Homo sapiens: one gene and its partner. The protein of the gene in region 1 interacts with the protein of each later gene in a biochemical or structural test. Each region holds a gene or a part of one and is shown on either strand. Other genes may lie near its edges.

Evidence for each region. The genes of interacting proteins can lie anywhere in the genome.
Region 2: the proteins of DLG5 (region 1) and PRLHR interact in a test that uses a peptide from one of them, tested with the Homo sapiens proteins (one large-scale study listed by IntAct).

What each region holds. Positions count from the first base shown.
Region 1 is NC_000010.11:77,794,228-77,797,900, forward strand, and holds part of DLG5 (disks large homolog 5), read right to left. Parts: intron 2,368-3,673; coding exon 2,224-2,367; intron 1,962-2,223; coding exon 1,834-1,961; intron 732-1,833; coding exon 622-731; intron 1-621. UniProt on the Homo sapiens protein: Acts as a regulator of the Hippo signaling pathway.
Region 2 is NC_000010.11:118,589,346-118,592,153, forward strand, and holds the end of PRLHR (prolactin-releasing peptide receptor), read right to left. Parts: 3' UTR 652-2,808; downstream 1-651. UniProt on the Homo sapiens protein: Receptor for prolactin-releasing peptide (PrRP). Implicated in lactation, regulation of food intake and pain-signal processing.

The sequences.
Region 1 (3,673 bases):
GGAGGCCCCATGTGCTCCCCACATAAAGCACAGCAACAGCCTGTAGGCTGTCGGGGGAGCTCTGGGCAGATGGGGGAAGGAGGGCCCCCCAGCACACACACTTGGAACAGATGCACCAGCAGCCCCTAGCGCAGGTCCCAGAAGCTCAGCAGCACAGAAAGGCAAAATGGAGCAGGGCCTTGGTGAGCCCTTGGCCCAACCAGCACAGGAGCCGAAGCTCAGCGAAGGCAACGGCTCCTGAGTCATGAGCCAGCTCGGGGCTGAGTGGGACTGTGCCCAGGCCACTGGCTCCCCTGCTCCTAAGCAGCACGTAGCGAGGAAAGGGGGCTGGGGCAGGAGAGGGGAGCTGTGCAGACCAAGCTGGCCATGCCCAAAAAACAGTGGCAGCACCCAAATGGCGGAGGGGCGCGAGGAAGGGGCTGCGCTTGGCTGACACCACCTCTGAGTAGGGGACAGGGCCGACAGGGAAGGGTCATTTTCTACACGTACTGCCTATTTCAAGACCCATAGGCCCATCTCTCATTCCTCAACCCCCCACCCCAACACACCCTGCTCCCTACTTGGGCTCCCAGCCCCACCTGTGACAAGGCCCCAGCGGAGCCCAGGGGGCCAGTTACCTACTTGATGTGCTTGGCGCTCTTGTAGTGGATGAAGATGACAATGGGGTAGATGTGCATGTGGTGGAGCCGCTCAATAGCGTGCGGAGCAATGTCCAGGAGGCAGTGTCGGTTCTGGGGTGGGGGGTGCAGAGTGAGCCCTGGCGGGCAGTGAGGGGCAGCCAGCCCCCTGTCCTGCCACCAGCAGGACCCACCTCACCTCACAGGGCTCTACCCACAAACAAGGCAGTAAAGCCACACAGTACACCGTGGGGAAACCATACCCACGAAACTCCCAACAAACCCCACTTGCTGTGAGGAAGGCCAAGGCTGGGAGCCAGGGCTTAGGGGGCTAGGGGTGCTGGCCAGCCCAACTCCAAACTTCCTTTCCCGCCTTTGCCCAGATACAGGGACCTTCTGAAAGCCCTGCCCCACCCTGGCCTCTGAAGCCTTATTTTTGCCAGACTGAGCGAATGAAGAGCCAGAGTCTGGTGAGCCTTTGTGTGGCTGAGACTGAAATATGTCTGTCATGTCTGTCGTCCCAGGCATCCAGGTGGAGTGCAGGCCCGTGCACTCCCGACCCCCAGATGCTCCACTGGGGCATTCCCCCAAGTAGAGTTTGCCCACTTTCAGCAGTGAGAAGCCAACACCTTCATCTAACAGAGAAGGGAAGCAAAGCCCAGCGAGCGAGCTGAGCAGCCTGGAGAAATGGAGCCCAAGGAGCGGCTGTGTCCTTGGACTCCGAGTGTTTGCCCCACCAGCACTCCCCACAGACGTCCCCGCCCTCGTGCTGCCTAGGATGTTCGAAGGCACCGAGAGTCATAGCCCTTTTAGGGGCAGGGACCCTGAGGGAAGGCACGTTCCTGTCCCCAGAAGGTGCATGTGAAATTGTTCGGCACATGCATTTGGGGACCCCGTTCCGGAATGCCCTGCGAGAGGCCTTTCCGCAGAGCTCAATACTCTCATCAGAGATGAGACCCCCCGCACCTGCCAGAGAGGAAGATGGGGCGGCACATACACAGGGGAACTCCTCCATCCCCACCAAGGGATGTGCTTGCAGAAACACACAGCAGCCATGAGGGCAAGCCCAGGCACAGGTGAACTCAGACTAACACAACACGGTGGGCTCACTGAAGGTCTGAGCCGCTGGGGCAGAGGATCACGGACCAGGGGCCTAGACCTGTGCACAGGAGGTCTAATACTGGATGCCTAATCCTCAGACTGAAGCCCTGGGTACCTTTTCTGTGATCTCCTTTATTGACGCCACAGTGGTCACATCGAAATGGCCGCTTCTCCGCTTATAGTCGACAAACAGGCAATCTTTGACACCCCGCTCAATGGCCTGCTGGGAGGCCTTCATCACCTCTGCAATGCACAGACACAGGAATCAGGGAGCCCCAGGCCCTGCTGAGCCCCAGCAGAGGGAGCAGGGGAAGAACACTGCTCAGCAGCTGTCAGTAACCCAGTCCTGCCATGCATGAATCTGACCCATGTCAGCAGGCTTCTGGAACACTGTGAAATCTGCCCCCCGGTACTGCCACCCACTGTGCACAGCTGGGCAGGCAGGTGGACAGGGACATAGAGACAAAGAGCCCAGTAGGCACAGAGGGTGCCCCGTGCCCCTTACCAAGGGGACATCTGCAGAACTTGCCAGGAGCCTCATTCACCAGCATCTCCTTCACCACGTCCAGCAAAGGCCCCAGAATCAGGACAGGCCTCAGAGCGGTGCAGTCCACCTTCTGGACCCGCTGATAGGCCAGGCTCACCGAATCTGAGGGAGAGAGAGCAGCAGCGTCACGGACCCAGCTTGGAGTGGAGGACCTGAGTGGGGCTGGGGAACCCCGCTCCCTGACCTCGCCCACTCTGGTTTGCCTGGGACTCCCCCAGCTTCAGCACTGAAAATCTCGTGTCCCAGGCACAACCGGGCATCGTCACCCCTGGAGTCCAGCATGAGCACCCCCCATGCCCTCTGTGAACACCAGAGGCAGCTGGTCTCAACCACTCATCCCAGAGCTTCCTTCTGCTCTGATTTTTCCTCGTGGGTCGACGCCTGCTTCCCCTGCCCCATCTCCATTCTCCTCTGCTCTCTGGCAAGGCAGCCTCTGGGGTTTGGCAGGTAAAGCTCCCACTCCCCAGGAAGGTGTGGTCAGTGTAACCCAGACCTGCCCAGTGACAGGTGAGGCCTCCCCAATCTGCACGGCTAGAACAGGTGAGTGCTGTGAGCCAGCTCTGGCCATGCAGTTGAGGATAACCCTTAAGAAATGGCAGAGGCACAAGATGGAAGGGACCTGGGTCCTGGATGATCCTCAGAACGCAATGCCTCTCCCACATCAACCACAGCTCAGACTTGTACATGACAGAGAAATAAACTGCCCATTATGCTTAAGCCACTGTTATTTGGTTTCAGTTAAAGCAGTCAAACCAATATCCTAGTTGATACATGCAGTAAACCTCCCCTTGCACCAAATGAATAAAGTCCTTGCAGGGAGACACAGTCTAAAACCCAGCAAGATCTTCCTGGCGTCTCCCTGGTATAAGTCACTGTGCTGGAATCTCAGAAACATAATAAAGAATAGAACACAGAGTTCCTGCCATTAAAAAGCACACACTTTAACTAGAGTCACAACAGAGCAACACATGAACAGCAAGAGAGCACGCAAGAGCTGCCTGGCAATTCCAGGAGCGGCGGGCTTCAGTAGACACTGTGGCTGGATGACAGGGTGAAAAGACCACTTGGGCAGGCCCAGGAGGGAAGTGGGATGAGAGTCTCCAGAAAGAGCAGGGCAAGAGGATGAGTATGGAGATGATGGGGAGGGCAGAGCACAAGATGACTGCAGGCTTGGGAGGAAGGGTCCATGAGAGGCTTGGCCTGGAGGGATCTGTACGCATATGCAGAACAAGGAGTGACTGCAGAGCAGGCACAGGGACCAGGAGGCAGAAGGCTCAGGAGAACACAAGCACAGTGCCAGCTGCAGCAGCAGGCTCCATGAAGAGCAACCTGTGGGCAAACTCAGGGAGTAAGTAAAGTCTCTCCTCTCCTCTTGCCCTGTCCCTGTGTGTGTGTTTTTTAGAAGTGA
Region 2 (2,808 bases), about 41 Mb from region 1:
AAATAAGGCTGTTTCCAAAGACTGGAAAATGTACAGTCTTAACAATCAAGATTGCAACTCTCATCCATCCAAATATTTTACATTTCCCACATCTGTATACTATTTTACTTTGTAGGATAAATGGGTCGCTGAAAAGGTATACATATGTCCATTTTTGAGTGGTATTTTAGGTGTACTGAAAAATCTTTTTTATGACTCCATCATGAACATTTTAGAAACCTCGTGATTTTGCTTATAGACCCATATGTGGGATGTTGTTAGACCTTCCCAAATTATGTGTGAGAAATGGGTGATAAAATGCTAACATTTAAATAACTCTCCAATATATGATGGTATAGAAATTAGGCATGAAGTTCTCTACTCTCATTTTGATGGACCCGTGGATTTAGGCATATGCAGTCTTGGGGAGTAGAGAGCTTGGTGCCATATATTTAAATGCTGGCATTACTGAGGTTGGGGGCAGGGGGTCACAGAAGACCCAAAATGAACAGTTCATCTCTGGAATAAGGTGGAGTTGACAAATCTAGGTTGAATAGCATGTTTTCCTTGACATGATTTATCCTTGCTTTGACTCTGGCTATCCTGAGGTTGTGTAGTTACCCCATATGTATAACTGGCTTGGTTTATTAATCCTGTGGCTGAAGACTGTGCAACTGATTTAGTATTTATTGAGCTCCCACAACATGCCAAACACAGTATAAACCCCAGCATGTAGAGCTTCACATGTGATTCAGCAACACATGCATTTTACACACATAGCAAAGACATCAACGCATGAAGGTAAATCAATCAAGAACCTGCCTTGGGAAACAAAGGTGCTCCTGACCTCTCGTCTGTGAGGGACAGGCCCTGTGTTCACTCCCAGATCTAGCCACACTCTTGAGGTTAGTTTTGTGCCTTGCATTTGAAAGACTAACAGATGTTCAGGAATGCAAACCACAGGACAGAGGTCGTGGGTGAGCCTACCTGAGAAAATAAACCTGGAACTTAGCTATCCCAGTAAAACAGCAGATTGAAAATTCACAAGGACAAAAAATCAGACGGTTATAGGAACTGGAATATCCTTACCTTAGCATCTCTCACAATTGCTATTTCCAGGTAGCTGTTGGAGCATGCATTGAAACACTCTTCTGCCAGTTTAATGAGATAAATCTATTGATTGGCTGCCAAAAGTGTGACCTGGTGACAAAGCTTGCAAAGAGGATTACAGAACCTCCCATCAGCCTTGAGAAGGGCTGCTGCCAAGTACCAAGTTGGCTCAGTTCCCAGCCTGACTGCCTGTATTACTCCTTGCAGGAAGAGGACTGTGTATACATCTTAGATGCTTGATATTAACCAAAATGAATTATTAAATAAAATTTTCTACCTACAGTCCTACGCAGTTCTCTCTGGGACTCACCTCTGATTTTTTTGAAATTCGGTTTGATTTATAAACTAGTCCACAACACATTTCAGATGTTGTAAGAATTAATTGCTGTTCCGTTGCTGATTTTCATAATATGTAAAGATGTTTATAAGCACAATCTAATTCTCCAACCTCTTTAAGCTCTTTATAAAGTCCATGTAAGTGTTTCAAACTTAAGTTGTAGGCATGACAGAAACCAGTGGCAGCTTTTCTAGTAATTAATGGAGATGCTTGTTTTTCATAGTTGATATAAACTTAAGCTAATCAAGGAGCACTTTTTCTAACACCCTGACAACCAGGATTTAAAATAATTCATGGTATGTAAATTTGTTTTTTGTTGTTTTTTGTTGTTTTTGTTTTTTTTGTTTTTTTGAGACTAGATTTTGCTCTGTCACTGAGACTGGAGTGCAGTGGTGTAATGATAGCTCACTGCAGCCCAGTGATCCTCCCAGGCTCAAGTGATCCTCCTGCCTTTGTGTCCCAAGTAGCTGGGACCACAGGTGTGCACCACCACGTCCGGCTATTTTTTGTAGAGATGGAGTTTTGCCATATTTCCCAGGCTGGTCTTGAACTCCTGGGCTCAAGCAATTCTCCCTCTTCGGTCTCCCAAAGTTTTGGAATTATAGATGTGAGCCATGGTACCTGGCCATGGTATGTAACTTTATAATACAATTGACCTAAGGTTGAATGATGATATTCCTTCTGAATTGATTGGACTGATACATAAGAAATATGTAAGTAAACTGTTGAACGAATCCCTATATATTCTGATTTCAATAATTTGCCTCTTTGTGATTGAGCTGGTATTGCCTGAAGACTAAAAGAGTATTCTCTAAGTATGGCATGTAACACCGTCAAATTCAGCTCCAAATTATTAACACCTTTGGCAGGTACAACTAAAGCTTCATTCGGATGTTTCTGAGATTCATTAGAAAGAGGATTCCCGCCCCCACCCCCCACCCCGAGATGGAGTCTTGTTCTGTCACCCAGGTTGGAGTACACTGGCACAATCTCAGCTCACTGCAACCTCTGCCTCCCTGGGTTCAAGCAATTCTCCTGCCTCAGCCTCCCGAGTAGCTGGGATTACAGGCGTGCGCCACCACGCCTGGCTAATTTTTGTATTTTAAGTAGAGACAGGGTTTCAACACGTTGGCCAGGCTGGTCTCAAACTCCTGACCTTGTGATCTGCCTGCCTCGGTCCCCCAAAATGCTGGGATTACAGGTGTAAGCCACCATGCCCAGCCCTAGAAAGGATAATTCTTAAGGTGCTTAATCTTGGTTGCACATTAAAATCCCCTGAAGTGCTTTGGAAAATGCTAGTGTCCAGGCACCATCTCAAATCAACTAGACTCTTGGGAGGAGAGCCCAGACATCAATTACAAAAAGAAAAAAAAGTTCCCCAG